Homo sapiens: one gene and its partners. The protein of the gene in region 3 binds, or shares a complex with, the protein of the main gene of each other region. Each region holds a gene or a part of one and is shown on either strand. Other genes may lie near its edges.

The links.
Region 1: MYBL2 (region 3) and LIN54 share a complex: the UniProt entries of both Homo sapiens proteins name them as parts of the DREAM complex.
Region 2: MYBL2 (region 3) and TFDP2 share a complex: the UniProt entries of both Homo sapiens proteins name them as parts of the DREAM complex.

Annotation. Positions count from the first base shown.
Region 1 is NC_000004.12:82,929,141-82,940,840, forward strand, and holds part of LIN54 (protein lin-54 homolog), read right to left. Parts: intron 10,823-11,700; coding exon 10,749-10,822; intron 10,597-10,748; coding exon 10,399-10,596; intron 9,365-10,398; coding exon 9,273-9,364; intron 8,159-9,272; coding exon 8,087-8,158; intron 7,242-8,086; coding exon 7,139-7,241; intron 6,979-7,138; coding exon 6,841-6,978; intron 2,006-6,840; coding exon 1,803-2,005; intron 1-1,802. UniProt on the Homo sapiens protein: Component of the DREAM complex, a multiprotein complex that can both act as a transcription activator or repressor depending on the context. In G0 phase, the complex binds to more than 800 promoters and is required for repression of E2F target genes.
Region 2 is NC_000003.12:141,954,510-141,966,209, forward strand, and holds part of TFDP2 (transcription factor Dp-2), read right to left. Parts: intron 9,455-11,700; coding exon 9,303-9,454; intron 5,332-9,302; coding exon 5,165-5,331; intron 1-5,164. UniProt on the Homo sapiens protein: Can stimulate E2F-dependent transcription.
Region 3 is NC_000020.11:43,709,896-43,719,464, reverse strand, and holds the end of MYBL2 (myb-related protein B), read right to left. Parts: intron 9,503-9,569; coding exon 9,403-9,502; intron 7,978-9,402; coding exon 7,864-7,977; intron 6,464-7,863; coding exon 6,359-6,463; intron 4,332-6,358; coding exon 4,182-4,331; intron 3,507-4,181; coding exon 3,378-3,506; 3' UTR 2,983-3,377; downstream 1-2,982. UniProt on the Homo sapiens protein: Transcription factor involved in the regulation of cell survival, proliferation, and differentiation. Transactivates the expression of the CLU gene.

The DNA of each region.
Region 1 (11,700 bases), on a different chromosome or scaffold from region 3:
ATAGGAATCTTTAACATACAAACAAGCACTTTAAACTAGAAAATATTAATTTAAGGTTTTGGTCACTTGAAACAAGCTTGTTAACATGCTAGCATAACTTTTTTTATACAAGTTTTTAATATGTAATTTTGATTATAATTATAATTTTATAATTTTGTTTTCATATTGTTAACATCTTCCCAATTTTAAAAATTAATTATAAATATTTTACTGTAGCAGTATCTTTAATCTCCATGTGGAGATTAGATTCAATACTCTAAAGACCAGAAAGAATCCCAGGTTATAAGTCTTATTAAGGTGCCTGACCACTTCCACTTTATTCAGTCAAAAACCATTTGCTGTTTATATTCCAGTCAAGAGTTCTTTAGAACTAATATCTTAAGGCCAGGCATGGTAGCTCATGCCTGTAATCCCAGCACTTTGGGAGACTGAGATGGGCAGATCACCTGAGGTCAGGCGTTCAAGACCAGGCTGGCCAACATAGTGAGACCTCATCTCTACCAAAAATACATAAATTTAGCTGGGCGTCGTGGTGTATGCCTGTAATCCCAGCTACTTAGGAGGCTGAGGCAGGAGAATTGCTTAAACCCAGGAGGCGGAGATTGCAGTGAGCTGAGATCATGACACTGCACACCAGCCTGGGCAACAGAGTGAGACTCTATCTCAAAAAGAAAACAAAACAAAAAACCAAAACTAATATCTTAAATATTTTGTACAAAAAAGCCTTATTTTTATAAGCACTGGATCTCATTTTCAGTTTAGGCATTTTATTTTTGAGACGGAGTTTGCTCTTGTTGCCCAAGCTGGAGTGCAATTGCGTGATCTTGGCTCACTGCAACCTCTGCCTCCCAGGCTCAAGCGATTCTCCTGCGTCAGCCTCCCAAGTAGCTGGGATTACAGGCGCACACCACCATGCCCAGCTAATTTTTTGTATTTTTAGTAGAGATGGGGTTTCACCATGTTGGCCAGGCTAGTCTCAAACTCCTGACCTCAGGTGATCTGCCCACCTTGGCCTCCCAAAGTGCTGGGATTATAGGCGTGAGCCACTGTGCCTGGCCTACTTAGGCATTTTAAATAATATGCCATTTGCAAGGCTCATTCCATTTAATAATTCCTCAGATTAACCTCTAACAAACTTTCTAATACCAGTCCAGTCCAGTCCAAATCACAAACTATGTTTTATCAGGTCTTGACAAACACTGGAGATATTATAGACATGCCTTATTCCTCACAGCCACCTGGTATAGGCTATTTTAAGGATAAGAAAACTGAGGCTCAAAGAGATTCACAAACTACTAAGTAGCACAGATAGTATAAACTCAAGTCTACCTGACTTTAGAGGTCAGGCTTTTCTACTCCAGAGCTCAGCAGATGAAAGAGATAACAATACGGAGCTGCACTATTACAGTGTGATGGGTGGTCCAATAGGATGGGAAAAGTGCTCCAAGAAATGGAAAAGGCAAGAGAAGGTAGGAAAATGCAAAAACATAATTACACGTTCAGCGAGACATATGAACATCTGCTTTTCTTTGGGGTTCCTCAAATTACATAATTACCTCATCTTAGTAGACAGAAATTAAGCACAGTGGACTAAATCATTACTGTGCATTTTCGAACTGCACAATAATCTGACAGTGGTTTCTGTTACCTTTAAATTCCTTTACAAGTAACTAAAGATGGAAAGAAAACACAAAAATCAGGTTTGCAACAACCAAAAATATAAACTCAACTTTGCCCCCTGAAAAGAAACTTTACCAAAAGTATTTGGGAAGTACTATAAAAAGATTAAAATACTGACTTACTTTCCGCCTCCACTATTTAAAGCTGGTGTTGGCCTAGTAAGCAAGTCTGAAATTTGAGAGGATAACTTCGTCTTGGCTGCTGTTTGTTGCTGTACCCTTACTTCAGCTGCATCTGCCAAATGCATCAATGTCTTCCTTTCCGGGCTTTCTTCAAAATTCTTACAGCCAATACATTTGCATATTGAGGAACACATTATTTTTGCCTAAAAGATTTACATAAGAAAAGTTTCCAAATCAAAACCAAAATACATTACTATAAGTAGATGCCACAATCAAATCAACAGCTAATAGCATTACCTGGTCAACTGATAATAAGATTAGATGGAAGTATCTCTGGCTGACAAACAGTAACTACACATGTGGCTAGCTAGGTTAGGTATTCTTAAGTCTGACAGTGGCTGTACAACGTTTGTGGCTGTGTCCTTCCATGTCAGTTTTCCCCCACTATGAATATAGATTTTCTTCAGATATGAGTTACACATGTTTTTCATAAACATGAATGATATCCTAAAATATCAAAAATAAAGGTCATCCAGAATCCAGCCACCTCAATCAAATCATCATTAACATATAGATGACCTCCCATTTATGCATATGTATACAATTTCACATTAAAGGGATTTCACAGATGCCATTTTTATTATTCTATTATGCTATTTTTAATCTGAAGAGGGAGTTCGGGAGGGACTTCAGATTCCCCAAACCCTTCAATAACCCATATGAAACTAGTGTGTATTTTACATTTCATATAAATATATATTTTCATGTAAAAATATGTCAAATGTAAGTATATATAAAATCCTAGACCTTATGTATATACAAATATAGAACTTTCATTTTTTAGTTTTTCAAAATCATATTATCTGCTTTTCTGCATCTTGCTTTTCTTACAACTCATGGAATCCCTCCAAAGTCATCTGGCATAGCTTGAATTCATTCTATTTAACAGCTAGGTGTAAATCCCTGGTATGATGTGTCAATTTTATTGGGCATTCATTTCCCTATTGATGGGTGTTTATTTTTGTTTCCAGTTCTTGGGTACCACAAATGATGCATAAAAAGACTTTTTTGTTATACATTATGCCTTTTTATTTCTCTGAGTTAGATTTCTAGAATTGGGCTCACTGGTTAACAGGTCTGTGTATTTTAATTTTTTTTTTTTTTTTTTTTGAGATGGAGTCTCGCTCTGTCTCCCAGGCTGGAGTGCAGTGGCGCGATCTCAGCTCACTGCAAGCTCCGCCTCCCAGGTTCACGCCATTCTCTTGCCTCAGCCTCCCGAGTAGCTGGGACTACAGGCACCCGCCACCACGCCCGGCTAATTTTTTTTGTATTTTTAGTAGAGACGGGGTTTCACCGTGTTAGCCAGGATGGTCCCGACCTCCTGACCTCGTGATTCACCCGCCTCGGCCTCCCAAAGTGCTGGGATTACAGATGTGAGCCACCGCGCCTGGCCTGTGTATTTGAATTTTAAGAGATGTAGCCAGATTGCTTTTTCAAAAGGCTGTAATACCTCACATCTCATCAGCAATGTGTAAAGGAAGGCTTTCCCACATTCCCTCCAACAATGAATATTATAATTCCTTTTAACATTTTATGCCAGGCGCGGTGGCTCACGCCTGAAATCCCAGCACTTTGGGAGGCCGAGGTGGGAGGATCACCTGAGGTCCGGAGTTCAAGACCAGCCTGACCAACATGGAGAAACCCCATCTCTCTTTAAAAAAAAAAAAAAAAAATTAGCCAGGCATGGTGGCACATGCCTGTAATCTCAGCTACTCGAGAGGCTGAGGCAGGAGAATCGCTTGAACCCGGGAGGCGGAGGTTGCAGTGAGCCGCGATCACGCGATTGCACTCCAGCCTAGGCAATAAGAATGAAACACCATCTCAAAAAAATATATATATATATAATCTGATGGTGGGGATGATAAAGTGAGATTTCACTGTTCTTTAATGTATATTTCCCTGATTTCTAACGAATTTGAGTATGTTTTTGTTAGCTGTGTTTTCTTCAATGAACCCATGTCTATATAAATAAATAAAACTGTCCTTTCTCTCTATAGCACCTAGCAAGATAAACGGGCTGCATTATAAACACATTTACTCTGCTCCTTTCTTATAAGACACCAATAAATTCCACTTACCAAAGGAAAAAATGGATGTAAGTTTGTGTTAACTGGGTTACTGTGAGCCTGAATGGGAATCTAACTAAAGCAATACTTAATAAGCATCTAGTGATGACGAGAGAAAATTCCTGACCTCAGAGTGGGGAAAACATACCAATAATGGTAATTTAGATTTTATATATATATATATATTTGTTTTTTAAAAATTATCTTTATATTTTAAGAACCATAGGAAAGACATTAATAGTGTCTAACCGGAGCTCAGATGGAGAAATTACAATGACATTTAGCTTGGCGAATTTAACTTCCCCTATACCAAAAAAAAAAAAGATGTGGAGGGGAGGAAAATGGTCACAAGAAAAGACACAGCCATGAAATAAGGTGGGTAGCCATTCATCCAATCAACAAGCCTATAGGCATTGAAAGGACACATGAATGTGTTGTCCAGATGCAAACCAACAGGATTAAAAAGCCAATTCAGCTGAAGAACAAGGTGTCAAAAGAACAGTTCAACACAAAATGTCAGATAAGCCCACAGCTAATTTACAGCCAACTAGCCACTGCTATTCATAGTTTAGTATATTCTAAGTTTCTCCATTTTTTGGTACATAACTTTTGGAATGATAAATTTGTTACTAGACAGTGTATCTGTCCCGACAAAATTTCATTAGAATAGGTAGGGTAGGGCTGTCTCTTCTAACACTTTTAAACCAGTCCAGTACCTTTTCTACTTCTATTAATTCACAGGTTGTTAACCAGTTCAATTAAATGGTTAGTTCCTATATGTCTGAATTTCATATGCCCAGCATGTATTGATTTTTCAATGCCATATACATGAAAGGGTCGCTTTACCCTTCTGATCCAACTTTACATAAATTTCCATGTTCTGAAAAGAAGTGTTAATTTTTACATATTCGTGACAATTTTTGTATGATATGGCTTCTAAACGCAAGCCGGCTATTTCATCAGGTATTCAAAAGAAGAAAGACTAAAAAAGATTCCAACACTGGATGAAAACTGGCTTGTTGGATTTTGAGATGTTAAGACAGTTTAAAAAATCAACTTGCGACGGTGGCTCATGCCTGTAATCCCAACATTTTGGGAGGCTGATGGGTGGGCGGATCACTTGAGTTTGAGAGCAACCGGGCCAACGTGGTGAAACCCTGTCTCTACTAAAAACAAAAAATACAAAAATTACCTGGGCATGGTGGCAGGTGCCTGTAATCCCACCTACTTGGGAAGCTGAGGCAGGAGAATCGCTTGAACCCAGGAGACGGATATTACAGTGAGCCAAGATCGCACCACTGCACTCCAGCCTGGGCGACAGGGCGAGACTCCGTCTCAAAAACAAAATAACAACAACAACAACAACAAAAAACTTGTCTCTTTATGCAATTTTCATTCATATCATCTGCAGAACTCACAAGATGTTACTCTCCTATTCCCTATTCTACTTTACTTCCTGAGAGGAGTATTTGACTTTGTAAATAAGTAGATTAGGAAAGAATTCATTACACAGAGAATGCAATACACAAAATCTTTCATATGACACATGCTGTATGGGAGAGGGCACTGAACTGGAGGACATGCTCCTGTGGCAGGGCAAACCTTCAGCAAGTGCAAAGCTAGGCTTTCTGCCAATAAATAAATAAACTAATTAATTAATTAATTCTCTGAGAATAAGAAAGAATGAAAATATATGAGAGTATGAGAAGAGCCAAGAAGAGGAATAACTCAACCACCCAAAAGACTGTCAGTAAAGAGTTTCAGGCATACCAAGAAACCAATTATGGTAATCTAGGGTTAATCTCAATCACTAGATTGTTACACATAAGCTTCTAAAATAAAACTATATAGTACTGTGTCTAAAGCAAGAAGGGGAAGATTTATATGGCATTTGTCAGAGCAGAGTTTCAACTACATCTTCCAGAGAAGACGCCTGACCCATAAGTAAAAATAACCAGCTCAGTGGAACAACAAAACAGTGAAAATGGAGACAATTGCCTACCGTGACCAGTAACCTCATCCAGCAGAATGCCAGATCCCCCTTTCCTATTTTTATGCTCACAAAGCAAACTTAACATACTTTGGTTTTCCGCAGAGCAGTGTGCTCTTTGAGTGGGCATAACCAGCATTTTGGTCAAGATAATCCTTTAATTTCCAGACTGTACCTTGGGATGCAGGCTATTTTGTATCCATATATATATATATATTTATATATTTATAATATATATTTATATATTTGAGACAGAGTCTTGCTCTGTTGCCCAAGCTGGAGTGCAGTGCCATGATCTCGGCTCACTGCAATCTCCACCTCCTGGGTTCAAGCGATTCTCGTGCCTCAGCCTCCCGAGTAGCTGGGATTACAGGCACCTGCCACCATGCCCGGCTAATTTTTGTATTTTAGTACAGACGGGGTTTCACCATGTTGACCAGGCAGGTCTCGAACTCCTGACCTCAAGTGATCTGCCCGCCTCTGCCTCCCAAAGTGCTGGGATTACAGGTGTGAGCCACCGCACCCGGCCATATATTTCTAAGAAGCCTGTGAAGAACAGTAAGTAGAACTGCACCTCAGGTGAGAATCACTGCTGGAGAGTTTCCAATCCACTTTGATATTATTTTTATTGAAAATCAATATATTGGTGTTCTGATCTGCATACTTTCTGAGCATAATGACCAAGAAGTTATGGTAAATCACCCAGTAAGACCCCAAGCTGTAATAATAAACCCAAGGTATTCCTCCGAAGCCCTGCTACAGAGGCTCGAAGGCCTTCCTAAAACAAGGGCCTTTGCACCAACTGTGCATATTTTCAAATTGCAATAGCAAGGTGATTTCCCAATTTTCAAGTAAATTTTTGTAGTAGGTCCTTTCTAAAACTGTTTTTAAAAGATATTATTTTCCGCACCCAGCATCTCACCTCATAGCATTCACAGTAGTTTTTAAGACATCCTGATCGTTTGCAATTACACCCTTTGCTATGACGTCGATCAGATTCTCCCTCCTTTCCTTTCCCTATCTTAGGCTTAAAGGCTTCTGGATTTCTGTCAAGGCATGCCTAGCAAAACAGATCAAATATCAGTTAGAGTTAAATCACAGTAGATGAAATTTAAACACTGCAAAAGGAATTGATAACGTTTCTTTGCAAGACAATTGAGTTTTATAAAACTGATGAAACTGGATATTTCTGTCAGTTAAATGAAATAAAAAATAATCACCTTTATTGCTTTTTGCCTTTCATTTTCATGTTCCAAATTGTTGTAACAATTAGTACAATTGCAGTTGTTGCAAAATTCACCATTTGCAAAGCAATCACAATACCTGAAAGGTAAAAGTCAGTATAAGGTAAAAAGTCATTATTAAGGAAAACTAATTATCTGATTATGCATACATTGTATATATATTGTACACATACTACATATGTGGTAAAGCATCTCAGAAATCTACTCAGCTACCCAGTTAAAGAGTTAACAACACATATTGTCAACCACATACTAAGGCTCAAAGTTTAAATCACCAAGTACTAGAAATGTGGCCTAAAAACTTAGTCCAACCAATAACAGCTGTCACACAAGAGCTGTCACACATATAAATTATATAAATTATATGTCACACATATAAATTTTATGTGCCCCCAAAGTAAGGCATTTCAAAATTCTGAAAAAGGAAAAACACTAGCTATATTCTAATAGTTGAACTGGCTCATCTGAGTTATAGTAATAGTACTTTGGATTCTATGCCCCAATAAGACCAATGCTTTTCATTTAACTATTTCATGTCAAGTCTTTTTAATGCTAATAAGCAAATTAACCATTCAGTGACTTTTAAAACTACCTAGAGTATCATCACTTAGGAGACCAAATACAAAAGTCATAAATAAGATCAAACATTATTATTAAGGGCAGAAGCTATGTCTGTCTCATGCTGCTATGTCCCTAACCCCTACTCCAGTGATTCATGTATGGTAAGGACTCTAAATATTTCTTTCTAGATGAATGAAATAATATTTTTACACTGCCATATATGTTCAAACATTCATTTGTATGTTTATTTAAATTACTTAGACTTATGAGCTTTGGTCTGCTAAAAATTTTTAGTTAACTCCATTTACTTTTAAGTGCATTTCTAATTACATTAAATAAGCAAACAGTTGCAAAAACACTTACAATTTCAAACACAGTGATTTTGTACAATTACAGGGCTTTCGGGGCCGACTGGCCGACTCTGATGGGATTATGCTGTACAGATAGAAAAAAAGATATACATTTAATCAATTAATAGTAACTAAAATTAATTTAGTTGCTACAACTAATTTAAAATTTAAAAAATTAGACCTAAAACTAATTTAAAATTAGAGAAGTCTCCAATCTATAAATCCCTCCAGAAATAAAGCTTTAACCAATGTTAAATGTGTCCATCTAAAATAAAAAGTTTGCTACGTTGTTCTATTTACACTAGGTTCAAAGGCAAGTTGTAACATGAAAGAGGTAGAGACAAGTATGGAATAATTTTTTTAAAAGAAGTTATCAATAGCTGCTAAAGAACACTCCACAAACACTGTCCCTTCTAAGAAAACAAAAGTTGAGATTGCCTCAAAACTCTTGGGATTCAATTATAAAAAGCAGTGAGGAAAAGGAGTGTGTGGAGGAGGAAATGGAAGTGGGATGTGGACTGATTCCGGGTAATTAAGCACGGCTTCTAAGCTGATATTGCAAAAGCCAGTAATTAATAGATAAACAAATAAACATCAACAAAAAATGAGGACCTCACATAATTTTAAAAATAGTTGGGCAGGTGCAGTGGCTTAAGCCTGGAATCCCAGCACTCTGGGAGACTGAGCCAGGAGGATCACTTGAGCCCAGGAGGTGGAGATTAGCCTGGGCAATATAGTGAGACCGCATCTCTACAAAAAAATTTAAAAATTAGGAGAGCATGGTGGCATGTGCATAGAGTTCCAGCTACTCAGGAGGCTGAGGCAGGAGGATTGCTTGAGCCTGGGAGGTTGCAGTGAGCTGAGATCACAGCACTGCACTCCAGCCTGGGCAACAGAGCAAGACCTTGTCTTGAAAAATAAAGATAAAAAATAGTTAGCATCATCATTTTGGAAACATACTCAGAATGAAAGAGAATAATAAAACTAGTGTAGTGAAATTGGTGAATCTGAATAGAGTATTTGGGAATTGACTATTTCTGTAATTTTTCTGTTTGAAATATTTCAACAAGTATTTTAGAGGCATGCTCACATGGCTTTAAGGGGAAAAAAATAAAAGAGGATGTAGTTTGGAATATATATATTTACTGTTGCATTTAAGCTGATCTAACAACTTATGTACCTATTTTCAAAATACTCACCCATTGAATGGAAGCCGTGCCTGGGTCTGGATACCAGATGTTCCAGTAAAGGTAGAGTTGCTTGCTATTGATACATATGAAGACTGCTGTAGCTACATGTAAAGAAAATTAATTTTAGATCATATTTCCAAAAATGGACAATACTGTCAGGTATGATGATCAGTAAGAAATACAAATTCATCCATTAAGATAAGAAAAACACAATGGAGAATATCACACAAACACATACTTCACAGAGCTCTTTTAAAGACTCAAACCAATACTATAGGTGAAAATAATGTGAACATTTTACAGTACTACATAGTACAAATATAAAGAAAGTATTTCACAGAAGAGTTAAGTATGTCGGAATGATAGGAAATGCTAGATGAATGCTCTCAAAGTACTGTAATAACTTGTTTGGGCTAGAAAAATGCAATGTGCCTACTTACAAATAAAATAGGTACTATACTGATCATTTATCACACTACAAATTACAGAGAATGAGAAGTTACATGCACAATAGTTGAGTTTCTATTTTACACCAACTTCTAAACATTAGAAATGCTTATGACAAAAATACTGAACATTATTCTTTTTATCAATAGCCACATAACATGTTCCAAAGTGTATTTCATTAAAAAGTACACGTGTGGGTTTGTTTCCCCGTCTTTCATTCTAAAGATGACCAGTAAGAGTAGATAGATCGCTGAAGATATGTCACCTGGAAATGCATCTCACAGTTTATTTTCCAATAAATAAACTTGGGCTTATTTTCCAAGTCAGTGGCATCAAATTTATGTGTGAGGAAGAGCTTTATAACAGCCACAGTCTTTTCTAAATTCATTTGGACTCTGCTGATTTTAACTTCAGTCTATTTTCTATCATATCGCCACAGGCTTGCGCTCCTGCCAAGCTGCTCTCAGCTCCAAATTGTCTGACTTGTATATCTGACCTGTGTTATATATTTCTAAATGCTAAAAGTACATAGAAATAAACTTAAAGGTTTGGGTTAACATTTTAAGATTTTGGAAAGTGCCACTTCAATACTGAGTTAGATGTGTTTGAGTAGCTTCTGTGATAGCACTAGACATCTTGGACCCCATTATCACTTTTGCAATACAATGACTTCATTTTTTCCACATACCTGAGTAACATACTGAGCTGGAAGCACTGCATAACCCACATTCCCTGTTCCCGGAGCTGGTGCCAGGACAGTGCCTGGTGGCAGGTTAGTGAGGTTGGGCTGGATCTGTGGCAGTGGTGTGGCAGGCATGATAAGCCGTTGCTGTGGCTGGCTAGTAGTTACTATTTGTGAAGTTGGATTGATTGGTTTTGGAACAACCTAAAAAGAAGGGACATATATCAATGACCACAAAATAAATTTTACAGCTGTTCAATTCAGTATAAATCTCTTGCACCTAAATCTTAACTTTCTATTTAAAAAGTAAATCGTCTATTTGGGAAAGACTGAGAAAGAAGTTATGTGATACTTACTTGTTTGACAGCCTGAGCTGAGACAATTGGAACTGACATCCGCACTGGGGTTGTATTAACAACCACTGGCTTTGCTTTTTAAAAAACAAAAGAAGGATGAACAAGTTATTTACAGAAAATAGTATTTAAAACACTTAAGAATACTTAGCTCTCCCAAGTTATTCTCATAAAAGAGCTTAAAGAATTCCATTTGATTCCTAATTTGAGCAATCTTTAATCAGGATAGTTACCTTTCAAAATTGCTTACCCCATCTACCAGAGAACTTATATCTAAGGTGGCTACAGTCTATCCACTTTGTGAGGGAATATTTGTAGGTTCAAGACATTCAAATGAAAATACTTCAATCTGTATTCAGATGATTTATACATTCAGTACTAAATCCAGTCAAATGAAATGTATAAATAAAAGAACTGTCATTCATAAGCTTGAGTAACAACAGCACTCTATACTACTATTTCTCATTGCTCTTTCTATTCAAACCAGAGAATATATCATTCTTGGGTTTTTGTTTTTTTTTGAGACGGAGACTCACTCTGTCTGTCACCCAGGCTGGAGTGTAGTGGTGCAATCTCAGCTCACTGCAACCTCCGCCTCCCAGGTTCAAGCGATTCTTGTGCCTCAGCCTCCCAAGTACCCGAAGTTACAGGTGTGTGCCACCATGCCCAGCTAATTTTTGTATTTTTAGTAGACACTGGGTTCTGCCATGTTGGCCAGGCTGAACCCAATGTCTCGAACTCCCGACCTCAGGTGATCCACCCGCCTTGGCCACCCAAAGTGCTGGGATTATAGGCGTAAGCCACTGTGCCCAGCCAGTGTAATTCAATATTTACAGAATACATACTAAAAGGCAGCACAGCAAAAAGGATAAGAACATGGACTCTAAAGTCATAAGACCCAGGGCATTTAAATCCCAGTTCTGCCATTTTCTAACCACTTAAGCTCTCTTTGCCT
Region 2 (11,700 bases), on a different chromosome or scaffold from region 3:
GCCTGTAATCCCAGCTACTAGAGAGACTGAGGCAGGAGAATCACTTGAACCCAGGAGGCGGAGGTTGCAGTGAGCTGAGATCGTGCCACTGCACTCCAGCCTGAGTGACTGTCTCAAAAAAAACAAAAAAAAACAAAAAAACAAAAAAGTTACTGAATGAATGAGTATAGTCTCTGTCAGCTGCCACTTTACAAAATAAGTGGTAGATACATTAAAAGTAATTCCTAAAAAGAAATTCTATAAGCCCAAACACATACTCAGAAAATGTAATCTGCCAAAATGAGCTATGATTTAATTGAATCAAAATCTTTTTGCAATTACTATACAAAAAAATGAAACTATATGATTTAGATTGGAAACTCTGGTATCCAAACAAGAGGCCATTCCCACGTAGGAAAAAAGTAAACTAAATGACTATGCTAATTTTAGAACCGTCTTATGAACCTTTTTCTTTGAGACAGCTGGGAAAAAAAAGAGACTTCAAGTCTAAGAAGAATAGCAGACTTTAAATACATTAAATAACGACAAGTCTGTACAAGAAAATAAAATTAAAGCCAGAATCTTGTGCTGAATATTAATTAGTATATAGAACTATAGAAACCTTCTGTCAGAACACAGCTATTTACTTGTTTGTGAGCATAACACATTACATTCTCTTTTTACAATGAATTGGAAAAGCCTACATTTCTTTCCTATTATCACAGGATCCACACAATGGTTCTCACACTCCCACCCAGGCCATTCTGCCCCTTTACACACGAGAGGCACATGTTTCTTCCTTTGAACTAACCAGAAAGTCTGTATCCCAGTCTGCAAATGAGGTCACGAAGAGATCAAAACCACAGAGCCTGCCTAATCGCCCTGAGCCTTTTCACTGGGAGTAAGCTAAAATAAAGTTCTGGTGATTTATTGAGTAAGCCCTTTATTCAGATTCTGCTGGCCTTCCAATGACACAGCAGGACCCAGGCTGGAGAGCGTGGAGAGAGGAAAGCTGGGTGGGGAGACGGAACAGGTGGGCTGAGGGGCAAGGAGAGGCGGGGGGCCCTTGCAGGGGATGAATGGTGCCAACCGAAGAACTAAAACAGAAACCAAATCTCAGCCAACAAACTCTTCTGTTGTGAGCAAAGGACCAAATCATAGAATAAAACAAAATTAAAGCTACCTTTTTGCTTACATTGGATTTAATGTATCTTAGACCTAGTATTAAAATGCCTTTAAAAAGCGATGTGAAATTCTAGATGGTTATACTTACAAATAAAATAAACAAAAGAAAGCAAAGGCAAAAACACTGCTTATATATTCATTTCTTTTTTTAAAAGACAGAGTCTCGCTCTGTTGCCCAGGCTGGAGTGCAGTGGTGCAATCTCCGTTCACTGCAACCTCTGCCTCCCAGGTTCAAGTGATTTTCCTGCCCCAGCCTCTCAAATAACTGGAATTACAGGCATGTGTCACCATGCCTGGCTAATTTTTGTATTTTTAGTAGAGATGGGGTTTTGCCATGTTGGTCAGCCTGGTCTTGAACTCCTAACCTCAAGTGATATGCCTGCCTCAGCCTCCCAAAGTGCTGGGATCACAGGCGTAAGCCACCGCACCCAACCTATATAGTCAAATTGTATCTACAAAATATGTAATATTTTCAGGAATTAGGAAAATCAGGAAGATTTCTAAATTAGTGAAAAAAATCTTAATTATAGGACATGTAAAACATAGTGCTTCTGTTTTCAAGTATACTCAGTATAACTTTACAACTCTATAAAAAGACAAGTAACTCTACTTAAAAATGAGCAAAGGATGGACTGTGGGAGGCCGAAGCGGGTGGATCACCTGAGGTCAGGAGTTCGAGACCAGCCTGGCCAACGTGGTGAAACCCTGTCTCTACTAAAAATACAAAAATTAGCTGGGCGTGGTGGTGGGCGCCTGTAATTCCAGCTACTTGGGAGGCTGAGACAGGAGAATCGCCTGAACCCGGGAGGTGGAGCTTGCAGTGAGCTGAGACTGCACCATTGCACTCCAGCCTGGGTAACAGAGAGAGACTCCATCTCAAAAAAAAAGTCAATGTGAATAGACATATTTCTGAGGAAGACATACAAATAGTCAATAAACACATGAAAAGATGCTCAACATCAGAAGTCATTATGGAAATGCAAATCAAAATCACAGTGGGAGCCAAGGCAGGTGGATCGCTTGAGCTCAGAACTTTGAGACTAGCCTGGACAACATGGCAAAACCCCATCTCTACCAAACATATCAAAAAAAAAAAAAAGATTTAACCGGGCATGGTGGCACACATCTGTGGTCCCAGCTACTCAGGAGGCTGAGGTGGGTGGATCGTTTGAGCCCATGAGTTCGAGGCTGCAGTGAGCAGAGATTGCGCCACTGCACTCCAGCCTGGAGAGCAAGACTCTCTCCCCTCCACCACCACCCTGCCCCACCCCCCCCACAAAAATCACAGCGAGATATCACTTCACTTCTGTGAGGATGGCTATAATTCAAAAGATGTATAGTGACAAGTGTAGAAAAGGATATGGAGGGCAGGCACGGTGGCTCACATGTATAATCCCAACACTTTGGGAGGCTGAGGCAGGTGAATTCAGGCCAAGAGTTCCAGATCAGCCTGGCCAACATGGTGAAATCCTGTCTCTACTAAAAATACCAAAACTAACCGGGCATAGCGGCAAGGTGCCTGTAATCCCAGCTACTCAGGAGGCTGAGGCAGGAGAATCACTTGAACCTGGGAGGTGGAGGTTGCAGTGAGCCAAATTACGTCACCGCACTCCAGCTTGGGCGACAGAGTGAGACTCCGTCTCTAAATAAGTAAGTAAGGATGTGGAGAAATTGGAACACTTATCCACTGGTTGGACTGTAAATGGTACAGGAGCTTTGGAAAACAGTTTGGTATTTCCTTAAAATGTTAAACACAGAGTTACCATATGACCCAGCAATTTCACTCGTAGGTATATGTTTTTAGAGATAAAAACATATGTTTACACATAAACTTTTATAAGAATGTTAACAGCAGCATCATTCGAGATAGCCAAAAAGTGGAAACAGTCCAAATATCTACCAACTGATGAATGGATAAACAAAATGTGGTCCATCCATACAATGGAATAGTATTTGGCAATAAAGAGGAATGAAATACTGATGGTGCTACAACATGAACGAACCTTGAAACACTACACTAAGTGAAAGAAGCTATCCACAAAATGCCCCATGCTGTAGGGTTCCATTCACATAAAGCGTCTTTCTAGAATAGGCAAATCCATAGTGACACAAAGTAGATTAGTGGTTGCCAGGGGCTGAGGGAGAATGGGGGAATAGAGACTGTTAATGGGTTTGGGTTTCTTTTTGGGTTTTTAAATTAAAATATTCTGGAATCAGATAGTGGTGATGATTAGCAACCTTGTGAATATACCAAAACATCACTGAACTGACATTTTTAAATGGTGTATTTTATGGCATGTGAATTCAATCTCAATTTAGAAAAGCTACAATGGTATCATTTCAGACCCACCTGATTAGGAAAATAGAACACTTCTACTCTGCTGGGGAACGTGTAATTTGGTAAAATCAAATTGAAAATTTTTGGTATCATCTAGTAAAGCTGAAGATGTACCCAACTCTGACCTAACAAGTTCAATCTGTACGTTTGCATGTGGTCACTGGGATACATGTATAGGAATGTTCAAAGCAGCACTGTATTTTAACATCAAGCAATCGGAAACAAACAGTTTATTTTCAGTAAAATAAACAGATAAGCTGTGATGTATTCATATAATGGAATTTTACACAGGAGTAAGAATGTATGAATTATATCTATATTAAATCACATGGATGACTCTAAAGAACATAATATCGAGTGAAAAAAAATCAAATCACCAAAGAGTATATTACTATGACTTCACTTATATAGAGGCCAGAAGTAGGCAAAACTAAATAATACATTATTTCCAGTTTACCATTTTGGTTTATCTCTAAAGAAATGCAAGTGAATGACAATGAAATGTAAGAGAATGGTTATATTTGAGGGGTGGGAAAGGGCACAGAGCCTGGGGCAGGGGCATGCAGTGGACTGGAACAGTAATGTGCTTTCCTCAGCTGGGTGCTGGATTCATGGGGGTCTACTGTACTGTGACCCTTCAGAGTCTACAGACGTAAACAACCTTTGTATCTACTCAGTATTTAATAAGAACAATTTAAGACTGGGGAAAGAGGAAGAAGGAACAGTAAATATGGTCAACTTGAGAAGTTTTACTGTAAAGAGGAGCAGCGTACACAAATGTGAATCCAGGTTTACCCCGTTCTGCCCTTTTTTCCCCTGACATTTAAACTTTCAGTCCACTCCTCCTCTCTGAATTCAATTAATCAAATGTTTTTATGTATGGGCAGATAATAGATATACTAAATTTTCCATTAGAGGGAAGTAGGATGTACCTACTTTTTTTTTTTTTTTTTTTTTTTTGAGACAGAGTTTCACTCTTCTTGCCCAGGCTAGAGTGCAATGGCGATCTCAGCTCATTGCAACCTCCACCTCCCAGGTTCAAGTGATTCTCCTGCCTCAGCCTCCTGAGTAGCTGGGATTACAGATATGTGCCATCACGCCCGGCTAATTTTTTGTATTTTTTTAGTAGAGACAGGGTTTCACCATGTTGGCCAGGCTGGTCTCGAACTCCCGACCTCAGGTGATCCACCCGTCTTGGCTTCCCAAAGTGCTGGGATTACAGGTGTGAGCTGCAGCGCCCGGCCAGGATGTACCTACTTTCTTTTGTAAATTGCCCAAAGTTTCCCTTGAAGTATCCACAGGGCACTAAGAGAAGATTTTTTAAAACTCCCTCATTGAGCTTTTACTAGCTTACTCTAACTAGGCTCTAAGCTAGGTACTGGGAATTACAAGATCTCTCTGAAGAGCCAAATTCAGTGCTGAGTGAGCCAATTTAGATGTAATAGTATATAATGTGTGGTGTATAGATGTAAGTTCATAATGTTATGAAACAAACTATTTAATCTAATTTTTGAAAAAATGGTCCTAAAGTGTTAAAGGTTTCAGTTTGTCGACACAAGCACAGATGTTCTAAAATTTTGCAATTTTCTATAAGAAAGGTTTTAACAAGTTTGGATTCAACATTTAATCAGGGACAACACATGAAAGCATCAGTTAACATACCTGTGATATAACCTTCTAAAGCCTTTGGCACCAGGGATTTCGCAAGTTTCAGATCCTCCAGAGAGCATTTGCCTGACTCCAGGCCAAACGACATTCCCATCCGCTTTAGTACTTCTATGTCATCATGGATCTCAAAGGTGTTGTCAAAATTGAAAAGATACTCAAACCTGCATCAGGAAACAAAGTAAAGGGTTTTTGGTGGTGCTGGAGAGGTCTGAATAGTTTTGTATTCTATAGTTTAAGTAACAGAATGGGGGCCTAAATCCAGCTATAGTGCTAGAAATTGCTACCATTTAGAGAGCCATGAGTCATTCTGCTCTGTCAGGGGAATGACATCTCAAATAAAACACTTTCCCAATTAAAACAACATTCCTCTGACAGATGATAGAAACCCACAAACTTTAGCCCTAACTCTGTTACAAACAGAGGATAGAAATTTTATTCTAAATCCAGTACTTCTCAAAGTTGCCTACAGCTTTGCCACAAAAGAAAAGCCTTTCTACTTTAATATTACGATATCCCTATTCCGAGTTGGCCTGTTAGCTTTGAGGAAAAAAACATTTTGAATGCTTACTTCATTTTCATGAGTCAAATGTTAGCTACAGCCTACTTCAGATAAGCAATAAATAGAAGACTTTCAACAAGTGAAAACAACCCCAAATCCTGTCCTGAGAGGCTAAGGAGTAAAATGTTTTAAGAAAAAATGTCACATGTAATACAAGCACGTTTCCAAATATGTTTGGAAAGTACCCAAATTGGATTCCCAGCTTCCCAGCAGCCCAACACACGTTAATCAAGAGGCAAAAGAAGGAAGACACAGTCCTTCCGACTCCTAGGCTAGGCCTGGAGCACCTTCATCATGGGCCTCAGCCCTGCAGGGACAGGGTTTGGGGACAATGGTAGGTTTCACCTGGTCATGAAATTCTATTAAAATCATGTGAGGGTAAAACTTTATACCCTATCTAAGATAATTTGAATAACAGATTATCTTAGAAGCAAAAATTATAATTTGAAGCAAAATACCAATTTAAGTAATCTAAAGTATATGAATTTGATTAAAGTACAATAACAACTTAAAAAAAAAAATCTGAAGTGGGTGCCTGCCACAGGGATGATTTCAGGCATCTGTTAAAAGCAGATCGTTTTGTAAATGTAATCCTCATTGTGGAAAGCCTCTTGGCTAATTATGGGGAAAGACTGCATCACCAAAGTAACTGAAAGGGTTTTTGGACCTACGTCGGATAACAAGCTTGTACAAGCTACTCAGAGCCTCCTTCCCTCCACTCAAAGGAAGGCCAAGGAAAGGGCATGAGTCAGGGACCACCCAAGAGATGGAAGCCTCACCAGATTCCAGCCTGGGGGAACAGTGTCCACAATACCCTAGGCCAATGATTCCCAGATTTTCCCATCATTCTTTTTAGACTTAAGAGACTAACCTAAGATAGTTTTATAATTCTCCATACAAAACAAGAGACTAATTTGAGAGAGTAACTAGAATGCTAAGTTTTGTGTTTTTTATCTGAAAAGATGCTAACCATTTTCCAGAATTCTCAGTTTTTTGTTGTTTTTTTTTTTTTTTTTTTTTTTTGAGACAGAGTCTTGCTCTGTCGCCCAGGCTGGAGTGCAGTGGCACGATCTCGGCTCAATGCAAACTTCACCTCCTGGGTTCAAGTGATTCTCCTGCCTCAGCCTCCTGAGTAGCTGGGAGTACAGGCGCGTGCCACCATGCCTGGCTAATTTTTGTATTTTTAGTAGAAATGGGGGTTTTACCATGTTGGTCAGGTTGGTCTCGAACTCCTGACCTTATGATCCACCCACCTTGGCCTCCCAAAGTGCTGGGATTACAGGTGTGAGCCACCGTGCCCGGCCTGAATTCTCAGTTTTCTGAGACTATGTTAATGGTCCTCTTTGACATATATTTATAAAGAATTTGCAAGTGTGTGGAAAATAATTCAGATATCTACCACTTACTGACCACTGGGCTGGGTTGTATATTAATTTACCCATAACTTTTTGAAACTGGCAAGGTAAATACTATAATTCTTATTTTTGTGGAGAAAGGAACATGATCTCAGAGAGGTTAAGAAACTTAGAAGATTAAAAAATGGATCAGCTTTAGTTGGCCAAGGAAGTGTGCACCTGCAGTCCTGGCTACTAGGAAGGCTGAGGCAGGGGGACCGCTTGAGCCCAGGAGTTTGAGGCTGCAGTGAGCTATAATCGTGCCTGTAAATAGCCACTGCACTCCAACCTGGGCAACAGTGAGAACAGTGAGAATCCACTCTTTTTTTGGGGGGGACGGAGTTTTGCTCTTGCTGCCCAGGCTGGAGTGCAATGGTACAATCTTGGGTCACTGCAACCTCTGCCTCCTGGGTTCAAGTGATTCTCCTGCCTCAGCCTCCCGAGTAGCTGGGATTACAGGTGTGCATCATCACGCTAATTTTTGTATTTTTAGTAGCCACAGGGTTTCACCATGTTGGTCAGGCTGGTCTCAAACTCTTGACCACAGGTGATCTGCCTGCCTTGGCCTCCCAAAGTGCTGGGATTACAGGCATGAGCCAACACGCCCGGCCAAGAATCCACTCTTAAAAAAAAATTTATTGGTTCTGGTTTACTTCATAACCTCTACTATTTCTTTTTGTGTCTATAGTCTCAATTATCAAATAGTTTTGAAATTCCTGCTGTTTTTTTCTTTTTTCTTTTTTCGAGACAGAGTCTTGCTCTGTCGTCCAGGCTGGAGTGTAGTGGCACAATCTCGGTTCACTGCAACCCCTGCCTCCCAGGTTCAAGCGTTTCTCCTGCCTTGGCCTCCCTAGTAGCTGGGACTACAGGCGTGCGCCACCAAGCCTGGCTAATTTTTGTATTTTTAGTAGAGACAGGGTTTCACTATGTTGGCCAGGCTGGTCTCGAACTCCTGATCTCAGGTGATCCACTAGCCTCCGGCCTCCCAGAGTGCTGGGATTACAGGTGTGAACCACCACGCCTGGCTAACTCTTCTTTTGTGTGTGTGCCTTCTTAGTGGAGTGGCCCGGAATCTCTGGACACAACAGAGACCGGCAGGGGGCGCAAGAGCGCCAGGAAGAAGAGTGGGAAAACAAGTAGCAGTGAAGCCCAAGGGCAATGTCAGGGCCCTAGGAGACAGGAAGTTCTGGTATCCCTGGGACAGTTCTGGGGTATGCCTGTGGTACTGACGCAATTATTATAGAGTCTTCTTTTGCATTAATAAATCCCTATTTGAACAATAAACTATAGGCTGACCTTTTGTAACAGCAGCTAACATTTAAAAAACACTTACCTCAAGTCATTATAGACATTAACTCATTTAATCCTCACAAGGCTGGGAAGTCATAGGGGACCCAGTATCATTCCTATTTGTTCTTGAGAAAACAGAGCTTTGCAGCAGCGAAGTGGGGGAGCCATAAGCGGTACATGGATCCGTCTCACTCTGCACCCTATATATACTCTTAACTCTTTTATGGTACTGGTCACAGCCTGAAGACCACTGAGAGAAACTTTTTCATGAATGGTAAAATACATCACAAATTAATTCTATATTTTGAAAAGTGCTACTTCTTATTTGCCATAATGAATATTATCATTGATCTTAGTTAAAATGTAAAAACACAATTTAAAGGAAGCAAAGAATGTGCCAGGCATTTTCATGTCTATTCATACATTCATTAATAAACAGAAGCATGCATAACTATGATATAGCAAAACAAAGAAATAATTGGTTTAATGCCACATGTTGACCTAAAATATTTCCGTAATAAACTATGACGGTGAATCACCAATGAATCTACCTTGTCCCAGACCCACAGTGCTGGGCTAACTTATCACAGTTACTTGCTCAGAGTTACCACATACATGCAGCACGTCATAGGTTGGGCCCAGACACTGCCACACACATATAATACAGACAGCACAGTGCCTGGCACAAGACAGGGGACCACAGAGGGTGAGGGTTGGAGCGCACACTAGTGGAAGATTGCACCCATGGTTCAGGAGGTGTTTCATGTGCCCCAAGGAAGCCAGCCTTTGAGGGGTGCAACTAATAAAGTGCATCCTTCTTGAGTTTGCAAATGATATGAAAATGTTAACAGAAGGCCAGCCCTGCACCCATCCCTAGTTCTCCACTCACTTGTCACTGGAGATGCTGCAATCTATGACTGTTTTTCTGCTTGTATTGATGATTATGAATGGCAGCTGAATGGTAGAGTTCAGAGCCGGCGGGCCCTGGTTTTGCTGCTCATTTTGTCGATTTCTCTGTACCAGGTTTTTGAAAGCGATTTGCTGTAATGATCAATAAAAACAATATGGTCAATTGTGCATAAGTGAGTTGGAATTTAAAAGAATTAAGATAATACCTTTAAATATAGTTTAAAATTAGAGTTTAAAGAGACATCCCGCCTGCACTAATGAATTAATTTAAAAAATTAAACATTTAAGAAAGAATGATCCAACTCAATAAATACATTTTTCCATCATCCATAGAAACAGGACCTCACAATCTGGGAAAGAACCAGTAGGCACCTGGAACTCTTCAGCAAATGACACAGCAAGGGTGATACCATTTATCTAACATAGACTCCTGACAGTTTGGGGTCAAATATGCCCCCAAACTTTAGGATGTGTAGCCCAGGGATATGCAAACATTTTAAAGGCACAAAATTGTTTCTTCAAATAAAATCTCGAGGGAGGCTGGGCACAGTGGCTCACGCCTGTAATCCCAACACTTTGGGAGGCCAAAGCAGGTTGATTGCTTGAGTCCAGGAGTTTAAGGCCAACCTGGGCAACATGGCAAAACCCTATCTCTACAAAAAATACAAAAACTAGCTGGGCATGGTGGTATGTGCCTATAGTCCCAGCTACCCAGGAGGCTGAGGTGGGAGGATTGTTTGAATCCAGGAGGCAGAATTTGCTGTGAGCAGAGATCATACCACTCCATTCCAGCCTGGGTGACAGAATGAGACCCTGTCTCAAAACAAAACAAAAAAAAACTCATGTAAAACAGATGGAAGTGGTGCTGTTGAGGCTGGCTGCAGTGAGGCCAGGTCCTAAGCTCTGCCATCTCTGCCCTCAAGCACAGCCACATGGTTTCTAAGGCACCTCCACAGAACTTCTCAGCAGCCTCTGGGCACAGTTTGGAATCCAGCCCCAGCCTTCCCCAACCAGACATTTCCAGATGAGGTAACTGAGGCTCAGCACTAATTATAAGATACATCAAGGCCTAAATTTTTTTACTGGATCTTGCCGCTACTTTTAGTTATAACCATTACTCAAAAGCCAAAGAAAGTGATCTCCCTTTTAGACGGAGGCTGCAGTAAGCCGAGATTGCACCACTGCACTCCAGCCTGGGCAACAAGAGCAAAACTCTGTCTGAGAAAAACCAACCAACAAACAAACAAGTGATCTCCCTTTTTTTAATAAGGTAAATGTACGATAGAATTTCACAGCTAGAAAGACTGTATGCAGTTCAAGTTTTTCATCTGCTCAAGAAACAGATAACGTTTTAAAAGTTCCTCAAGTCAGAGCCATTCATTCCCCTTCATTAGCTTGTTATAATCTTGTCACCCAGTAGTGATAAATTTATTTTTTACATTTTAGCAATCTTATGATCAGTATTGTTTATTTCAGGTTCTGGACCTTAACTAAAGTTTCAGTAAGATTACTATTATTGGCCAGGCATGGTAGCTCACACCTGTAATCTCAGCACTTTGGGAGGCCGAAGTGGGAAGTTCTCTTGAGCCTAGGAGTTGGAGGATGCAGTGAGCTATGACTGTGCCACTACATTCCAACCTGGGCAACAGAGCCCTTTCTCAAGAAGAAAAAGAAAAGAAAAAAAGGAAAGAAAAGAAGGGAAGAGAAGGGAGGGGAAGGGGAAGGGGGAGGGGAAGGGGAAGGGGAAGGGGAAGGAAAGGGGAAGGAAAGGAAAGGAAAGGAAAGGAAAGGAAAAAAGAAAAGAAAAGAAAAGATTACTATTATCTTAAAATGGCTGAGTGCTATCTCCCCAAAAGGGGAAGATTTACTCTTTGAAAAGCACAAAAAATAATGAACACCAATTTATTGTAGACCTAAGTGTGTCCAAAAATCACTATCAATAACTAGCACTATCAATATCATTACCAAACATTATTGAGGTTACATTTCATTATTTTCTGTTGCTAAAAAACGAATTCATTGCTTAATTCCTTTAATAATGAGGAAAAATTATGATTAAACTGTGGAACTGAGAAAAAGAATTACATGCTTAAATACTCCTGCATAGCTTCTCTTCCCTTTTACTAGAATACACATCTCAAGAGCTGTTCCTACACTTTGCCTAACTTGGTGTCTGTCCCTAGTGCCACAAGAGGACCCTGGTATATGGGGGAATATAAGCAGTGATAACTAATGGCCCTTATGTATTTGTGATTCACTATTTAATGCTGTGTACATTTAATAGTATCAATGGTTTTTCAAGTGAAGAGAGCAGTAAAAACATAATGTTTTTATTATTATTATTTATTATTATTTTTTTGAGACGGAGTCTCACTCTG
Region 3 (9,569 bases):
CATCTTTCCCTCCTGCCTGTCCCTCTCCCAGGCTGACCGCAGCACCCCCACTCCTGTACTACCATCCTGAACTCAGGCCCTCTGCCCCTCAGCGCTATCTGGCTAACTCTTTCTTGCTTGCCACACTAGCCTGGGAAACATCAGGCCTGGATCAATCCTCATGACCAAGTTCCCCAAACTCCTGATCAAACAGCAGCTGGGCCCCCAGCACCTCCTGAGTGGCAACCAATCTGCCTTCCCATGTGGGCTCTCCCTGTCCCCATGATGGCCAGGAGCTGTCAAATCTGACTCCTCCCCACTTTCTCTGAGCAGATGACTGGCCTCACGGTACCCCCTGCTTTACTTCAAAGTTCCCTCTGGCACATTTTATATCAATTGGTTGGTTTATATCTGTCTGCTTTTTAGAATTTAAGCTCCATGGCCGGGCGCAGTGGCTCACGCCTGTAATTCCAGCACTTTCGAAGGCTGAGGCACGCGGATCACAAGGTCAGGAGATCGAGACCATCCTGGCTAACACGGTGAAACCTTGTCTCTACTAAAAATGCAAAAAAAAAATTAGCCGGGCATGGTGGTGGGTGCCTGTAGTCCCAGCTACTCGGGAGGCTGAGGCAGGAGAATGGTGTGAACCCAGGAAGCGAAGCATGCAATGAGCCAAGATCGCACCACTGCACTCCAGCCTGGGCAACAGAGCAAGACTCCATCTCAAAAAAAAAAAAAAAAAAAAGAATTTAAGCTCCATGAGAATAAGGTAGTTTTTTGGTTTTTGTCTTTTGAGATAGGGTCTTGCTTTGTCACTCAGGCCGGAGTAGAGAGGCACAACCACAGCTCAAGAGATCCTCCCACCTCAGCTTCCTGAGTAGCTGGGACTACAGGCATGAGCCATCATGCTATCATGCTAAGTTTTTAAAATTTTTTGTAGAGATGGGGTTTCACCATGTTGCCCAGGCTGGTCTCAAACTCCTGGGCTCAAGTGATCCTCCCACCTCAGCCTCCTAAAGTACTAAATTACAGGCATGAGCCACCACACCTGGCCTGGTTTCTATCCTTTACTGCTATATCTTCAGCACTACAACTATGCCAGACATGTGGGGGTAGGGTTGGAGGGTCCCTCAATAAATGTGGTTTTGTTTTTGTTTTTGAGACAGTGTCTCCCTCTGGTTGCCCAGGCTGGAGTGCAGTGGAATGATCTCAGCTCACTGCAGCCTCGACCTCCTGGGCTCAGGTGATTCTCCCACCTCAGCCTCTCGAGGAGCTGGGACTAAAGGCACATGCCACCATGCCCAGCTAATTTTTTCTATTTTTTTTTTAGTAGACAGAGGGTTTCATGATGCTGCCCAAGCTTATCTCAAACTCCTAGACTCAAGCAATTTGGCCTCCTCGGCCTCCCAAAGTGTTGGGATTACAGGCGTGAGCCACCATACCCGGCCTAGTATTTATTTAATGCATGAACCAAAGAACAAGCCCACAGCACACAGAGCTCAGTGAGGATGGTATGTTAAGCTTGCTGTTACCTGCAGCCACTCTGTTCTTTACAGCCTCCTCCCTCCAGGACAGGAAAGGGCCTGAGGGCAGTCCCTGGGAATGAGCAAGACCTCAGGCAAGAGAGGGCATGGGGTACAAGCCCCTGGAGCCTCACAGGCGTCAGCTCAGAGTGTAGCCAGTCAACGCCCTGCATGTGAATAACCCACTGGTGGTTTGTTAAAAATCCCTTTTTGCAGGCTCCACCCCAGGTACCTGACTCAGAGGGCCCAGGAATTTTCATCATTAGCCTGCAGCGCACTGCATTTGAGTTTGACAAAGTTGTTCCACCGAGTCTTGGTGTGAGCTATAGGAGACAAGGTAATGCAGCCTCCATCCTCACCGTGGGGCACAGGTCATCCACCTTGGGTGACCAAGGACTGTAGGGAGCGGCCAGTGACAGACCTTGGGGAAGAAGTTGGGGAGGGGATAGGCTCCATGCTGACAAATCACAAAAGCTCAGGGCGTGAGTTAGGTGTGGTTCATCCATGGAACCTGCAGGTGCATGCAGCCCAGCCACATGGGCTGCGGGGTGCGGGGTGCAGGGTGGGAAGCACAGAGCCCCCGCCCCTCCTCGGCTTTAGATCAAGAACTGGGACACTGCCAGGACCAAGCACGGCATGCCTGCATGTGAATGGACAGGAGTAGGGGGACTGTAGGCGGGAGCTCAGCAGGGAGAAAGGGGTGTGTCTGAGGCCAGACACATCTGAACTCTGGCACCCTAATTAACTCAGTCCCCATCCCTCTAGAGTTGGCCGCATCTCTTGCCCCAGGTGAGGACCTGCCCCAAGTCTGCTCAACCTCTGCCCACAGGGATGTTCATGTGCCTGTCCCATGAAGCCTGCTGCTGAAAACATCAATTCCTCATTTAGACATTCTCAGACTTGGCATCTTCCCCTCTTCAATCCCCAGTGACTCTTCCCAACCACCTGCCAAGCACTGTGCTCTGTAGCCACAACCCTAGGGATTTAGGGCCACAAGGGCAGAGGCTCTGGCCCATCCTGGCCTCCTGCTCAGCCTTGGCCAATGGGGCTAGAGGGTTCTGCCCAGCTGCCTTCACCCCTCTTCCTTGCTTACTGGTCTGACCTGGGGGCCACGCTCAGCTTGAGGCAGGGGCTTGTTAATGGGCAGGTGAGCCACCCAAGGCAAGGGCCAGGCAAGGCCCTACTGCACCAACCCATCGTCCTCCTCCGCCCCCAGTCTCTGCCCACCCCCGCCCAACCCCATGGCTATTAATACTCAGAGCTTTGCAGAGATGCCCACTGGGTGCAGAGACGAGAGAAATTGCTCTCATCTCATTGTGCCCCTCTGTGGAAACAGGGTCAAGGGCTCAGGCCTGGGCTGTGCCGATAAGGCTGGCCTCTGAGGATGAGCATTCAGGTCCCTATATCCCAGAAGAGGCCCCTAGGTCACCAGGGAACCATGAGCAGGGCCCAGTAGAGAGGCAGAGTCCAGACCAGCACAAAGAGAGAGGCAATTTTATTCTTCCAAAAAAATGCACCAAGAGAGGGTGAGCACAGGAGCACCCCTGGCCACATCCCCCATCCTAAGCAGGGTCTGAGATGAGGCCAGGCCTGACGTGGGCTTGGGAGAAGCTGACGGAGCTCCCTGTGGCCTTGGGGAGGGAACCAGGCAGACCTGGAAGTGGAACTTTGTTGTTAGCACCAGGAGCCGCCCACAGCTGGGCTCGGCAACAGGGCAGCACATGGCCCTGTTGCCTCCACCTGAGAGTCTGGGGAGGGGCTGGTGGCAGAAGGCTCCCTGCAGGAGGTCACCTGAATGACTCTCAGATTCACAGACCCCCTCTGCCCCCACAACCCCTGTAAACATGAGAATGGGCTCGTGACACCCTCAACACCTCAGGACAAGATGAGGGTCCGAGATGTGTGGCTGGGCTTCAGGCGGCCCAGGAGCTGCCGGGCTTTCTCCTGCATGAAAAGCTGGTCCCTGGTCCCCCCGCAGGCCACCGTCTTCCAGGCACTGGACATCTGGGAGGAGGCAAGAGGGTTACCATCCAGGCAGGGACTATGTGTTCCCAACAGACCCTGGTGATCCTGGCCAGGGAAGGGTAGAGTTATAAGCCTCCCTCCCCTAGAAGCCAGAGCCTTCTTATTCTCTCTCCACATTCCCTGTGACCCTGGACAAGTCACTTCCTGGCTGTGGGCTTCCTCAACTGTAAGTAGGACGCTGGACAAGGAGACATGGCCATGCACTGCCCGCCCCGTGCAGCACCAGCCTCGAGGAGAAGCCACAGCCAGGAGGCGGGTGAGAAGGAGCAGTGAGACGGGTCAGCAGCCTGAAGCCAGCCCCTGCTTGAGGACAGACATGTACTAAGCAAACCAAATACAGGGATAATGACTTAGTTACAAGTGAAACCCAGGCCACAAAAGAGAGAATGGCAGAATGGGGGTATCTCTACAGAATGTAGGGTCAGAGAAGGCTTACCCCTAAGGAAGCAGCATTGAGACTGAAATCAGAAGAGTAAGTTAAGCAAATGCAGCCACGGGAAGTAGCAGGAAAAGCACCCAGGCAGAGGAACAGCCTATGCAAAGGCCCTGAGCTAAGAAGGCGGGCACTGCAGGACCCCCAGGGATGGCCAGCACTCAGCCCTGAGCTAAGAAGGCGGGCACTGCAGGACCCCCAGAGATGGCCACAGCACTCACAGGGGCAGGTGTCGTGAAGTGGCTTCGGGGCTTCTGGGCCACTGCTGCCTTCTCGGGCTTGGCCTGCAAGAAGCCCTGGTTGAGCAAGCTGTTGTCTTCTTTGATACCTGACAGGGTGAGGCTGGAAGAGTTTGAAGGGGCAGTTGTCGGCTGAAACCAAAACCAAGTCAAGGAGTCACCATTTTGCGAGAAGCTGTGAGAGGGAAGAAAAAAACCCGCAATCCCACCCCAGCACCACCACCTGGCTGCTGAGACCTGAAAGAGGATACACACTTTTCCAAGCCTCAGTTTCTGCTTTCAGATAGGGAGTTTACATGAGCTTAAGCTTACTTTATACTTAAAAGATTAAGCAAAGGGCCAGGAGCGGTGGCTCACGCCTGTAATCCCAGCACTTTGGGAGGCCGAGGCAGGCGGATCACGAGGTCAAGAGATCGAGACCATCCTGGTCAACAGGGTGAAACCCCGTCTCTACTAAAAACACAAAAATTAGCTGGGTGTGGTGGTGGGCGCCTGTTGTCCCAGCTACTTGGGAGGCTGAGGCAGAAGAATGGTGCGAACCTGGGAGGAGGTGGAGCTTGCAGTGAGCCGAGATTGCACCACTGCATTCCAGCCTGGGAGACAGAGCCAGACTCCGTCTCAAAAAAAAATTAAGCAAAGAACTTAATCTTGTTCTAAAGAACTTTCTTACTTAAAAAAAAAAAATCAAGTAATCAAGTAAAGAAACGTGTGTGCGTTTCAGAGCCTGATTCAGTGGTGTGTCTGGAGGCACAGTCAAGTACGTGGGGGCACATCAGCCCTGGGATGGGTGCCGTGCAGCCCCCAGGCCATAATAACATAATCAATAAATGTGGAGTATCACTGAGCATTATCCAGTAATAACATACTCAATAACGTTGGCTTTGTCACATAAAGCCTCAGGAGGAGCCAAGGCTGTTCCTAGTTTTCCTGGGACCAGAAACATCCACAAGCATCATAAAGACGCAGCTTCAACCCCAAGCACAGCGGAGTTGCACAAAGCCCCTCCCACGCCCTTCCAGTCTCTCTGCTCTGCTTGGCACTGTGCCCTCCTGACTTAGGCTTGGCACCCCTTTTATAGGCTTTTAACTGGGGCTCAGGGAACCTGAAAGATCCCAGAGAGCAGTGATGGTGTCATAACTCAAACCCAGGCCCACCTGACTCAATCTGTGCTCTTCACTCCCTGCGGTGATGTTTTTTTCTTTGCAGTAACCTGGCTGCAGGTCCCCAGCCTGTCAGAGACCCCTAGCCAGGACAAGGTTTCTCTGCAAGGACCGTGAGGGCAGCAGTCTACTTGGAAGATCAGGCAACCCTTAACCTTTGTTCATGACGCCGCCATGCCTCTCACCGCCTCCCCACTCTGAGCCAGGGCAAGCCAACTCACCCCATTGTGAGCAGAGAGGGATCAGCAGCACACCCTGGCTTCTGGGGACCCAGGCTCTGCACAGGCAACAACCCCCTTTCTGAGGTCGACCTCACTGTAGCACCCGGCACAGCAAGTCCACTGGCCTGGGGGCTGTATAGCACCCATCCCAGGACTAATGTGCCCAAGTGCCTGGCTATACCTTAAGACACATTACTAGGCTGGGCACGGTGACTCACGCCTGTAATCCCAGCACTCTGGGAGGCCGAGGCAGGCAGATCACCTGAGGTGGGGAGTTCGAGACCAGCCTGACCAACATGGAGAAACCCCGTCTCTACTAAAGATACAAAATTAGCCGGGCGTGGTGATGCATGCCTGTAATCCCAGCTACTTGGGAGGCTGAGGCAGGAGAACAACTTGAACTCGGGAGACGGAGGTTGCAGTGAGCCGAGATGGCACCATTGCACTCCAGCCTGGGCAACAAGAGCGAAATTCCAATTCAAAAAAAAAAAAAGAAAAAAAAAGACACATCACTGACCCTCTCTGGGAGAGCGCAGGAGACCCAGATGCATGTTTTTAAAACATGTCCTAGCCGCGCAACTCTGCCAAACAAAACCTTCTGTGAGAGACAAGCAGAGCTGCTGACTGAAGCCATGAGTGGGTGCCCGGACCCACCCTCCCTGATAGCCCCTCCCTGCAGAGCCCAGGGTTCCAGAAGCCCAGTTGGAGAGTCACTACACTAACTCCACCTTGAGGGTCCTCTCCAAAACTCAACAGTTCCAAGGAGCAGAAGCCTTACCAAGGATAGAGACTTGGGCAGTGTGGACATCATCAGCTTCACATCCTCATCCACAATGTCAAGAGCCAGAGACTTCCGGACTTTCTTGATGGGGCTCCGCCGCAGCTAGGGGTTGGCAGATAGAAGGGGGTTAGGGTGAGTGTCTGGATTCCCCATGGTCAGCACCTGGATGGTCATGGCCATGGATGGTCACAAAACCAGGCCCTGCTGCAGTGCAGACTTGGAGCAAGGCCCAGCTAGTGGGAATCTGCTGTCAGAAGAATGGGGTGGCTGGGAAAGTTAGGCCCCATGGCCCCATTAGACTCTGTACCCAAGGTAGACCCTATCCTGCCAGGTGCTGCGACAGTGAGCAGGAACACAGCATGAACCTCCACCACGAAGTGACCTGTTCTCACCCCGAATGGACCAGACACAGCCCCTCAAACAGGCCCAGCAGAGAATCACCCCAGTAACACCTAAAATAGCACCCACAGGCCAGTAATATGGGAACACAAACCCCTCAGGACAAGCCCCTCTACAATGCCTAATACAATCAAGGAACGCCCCATTCCTAACCGTGCACCTCACAGAAGCAGGTCCAGGGCCTGCTCCGATACCAGGGAGCGGCTCTGAGAGTCACATCCCCACTCTACCCAACAGTGCACTCAGCAGGGGCTGCCATGGCTCACAACCATCCCCACCAAGGAGAGGCCAGGGAGGACCCTGGAGGCCAGAGGCCAAGTTCTCTCCACGTGCACATGGGGTGCCAGCTCGGGCAAGTCCCGCCCAGGCTGACCGCCCACCTCCCCTCCTTACCTAACACCCTGTACATCCCACCGTTCCCAGCTCTCCCTTGAGGAGAGCAGTCTGGGAAAAAGGAGCACTAGGAGACTCGAAGGGATCGCGCACTGTCATGAAAGCTAACGACGCAGTGGGAGGGAGGCTGGCATAGAACGGAGGCTTGGGACAGTCCCTTCCCTGCCCCCCTGCCCAGGAGCCCCTGCAGACTCCACCTCACCTGAACCCACTCCCCCACCCCCAGCTCATGCAGCTTGACACTCAGCCAGGCACTGCCTGGCCTGGCTGGCTCATCCCGACCGCCTCGCCTCCACCCAAAAGATTCCTTTGGAACCTCCCTTTCTGCGGCCCTTGGTACCCTGTGAATTCAGTCATGGTGTGTCTGTCTAGCATCTGTCTCTGCCCCCTGAACACTAAGGGGAGATCCAGTCTGGGTCGTAATTGCTGCTCCATCCACCACATCCAGCCCAGCCCAACTTGAGCAGGGTCCGAACACAATGCTGGATAAGTAAGTGAATCCTTCAAAGCAGAGCAGAGGAGGGTCCCAGAGACACTGTCCTTATCTTGTCAGTTTCCTCAACAACCACCGTGCGAAAGGGGGCAAAGGGGATATGCTACGCCCCCATTCTCCCCAGCGCCTCACTTTCTACAACCTGTCCCCAGACGCCTCCCCCATGCCACGGCTCCAATTCCCCCTGCCCAGGCTCTCCCACCCCTACCCTACTCACCCCAGGCTTCCTCTTCTGCTTCTCGGGCCTGATGTCGTCCTCGATGATGAGTTCGATGCCAGCCTCAGAACGCAGCACCTCCTTCAAGTCCTCCTCCAGGTGCGGGGTCTGTGGCTGTGGGTAGGCACGGGGCAGCCCACGTGAGGCACCACACTCGGGCTGTGTGTGTGTGGGACTGTGGGACCAACCCAGCTGCAACTGGGCTGTCCTGGGTAAGGCAGGAAGGAGGCCTGACGCCAGGATGCAGATCTCACACGCACCATTCACAACCACTAACTGCTGCCTTGGACAAGCAGCTGATGACCTTGATTCCCAGGGGCCTGCCATGGCTGGGAGCAGCCCAGAGACGCACTGTAACCCTCACACAGCCCTGTGCAGTAACCGTCATTTTAAGCAGGTAGAAACAGAAGCTCAGAGATCAACAGCCTGGCACACAGTCACACAGCTGCTGAATTAGGACCCCGACAGCTCAAAGCCCAGGCTCACTCAACCCTTTGTTCCACACTAATGGGGGCTCTCAAACCCATTTCCCTTTCTCAGGCCTCGGGGTTCCAAGGACCTCTCCAGCTTCAGGCAACAGAGAACAGGGGAGGGCGAGTGCTACTAAGAGTGAAAGGTGCGAATCACAGCCACTCCTCATAAGTCATCCGAAAAGCCCCCACAAACTTTAATTACAGCTGCCAAGGTCATGTGATTTGCCCTCACACCTGTTTGGAGAGCATGCAGATATTTTAGTACAGAGGAGCCAAATCTCCACTGCAACAGGAAAGGAGCACTAACTAGTGCCTCACCTCGGCTCATGTAGCATGGTCCGTGGAAAGTCTGCTTGACTCAGAATCAGTTCCATGGCAGGCCCAAGGGAGCCTCAGCCCCCAGCCACCTTGGGCTTCATAGGAGGCTCCATGCAGTGGAGAGAGACAGCAGGGGGACCCGCTGCAGACCTTGTTCACAGTCCAGTGCCTCCACAACCATGCCTTTCTCTCACCCTCCACTGATTTCTAAAACACCTGTGTGTTTCAGAAAGCCCAAGGTGCCAACTCCTTTTTTCATAGAGAAAACACAACCATCCCATCAACTGGGAAGAGCAGGGGAGAAGGGCAGCCTGCACACTGCAGGAAAGACGTCCCCGAGGGGCTTTCCCGTGCTCTGTAGAGAACTGGGAGTTGGTCAGAGACAGGCCAGAGTAGCAATTTGCCACTTCTCTGAACTAGGCCCAGTGCTTATCTTTGCCTGAAAGTGTTTAAGTTATTTGTATTTCACATCAGTCTCCCCCATCCTGAGGCTGAGTGTCACGGGATACCACCATGTCTCTAGCACCAGCCGGCGCGTGCTTGCAAACTCAGGTGCTCAGGAGCAGTCGGAGGAAGTGACAAAGAGCAGCCTCAGCTTCCCCATTTATATTATCAGGATCTCTGCATCTTCTCAGGAGAAAGAATCAAATGAGACCTCAGAGGGAAGGGTCCTGTGGACTGAACATGGTTGGATGAACCGAAGGGATCCCACTGTGCAGAGATCCACGGCAGCGACCACACCACGTACCAGGGGCTTCAGGGGTCCGTACTTCTCCAGGGCGTTCTTGAACGGGGTTGGCGTGTGGGGAGTGTTGTCCATGGAGTACTTCTGATCTGGGGTTACAAACCTGCCAGGGGCCAGAACGGGGGAACTAGTGACAGGATAGGGGCCGACGCCAGGCACTCTGCTGCCCT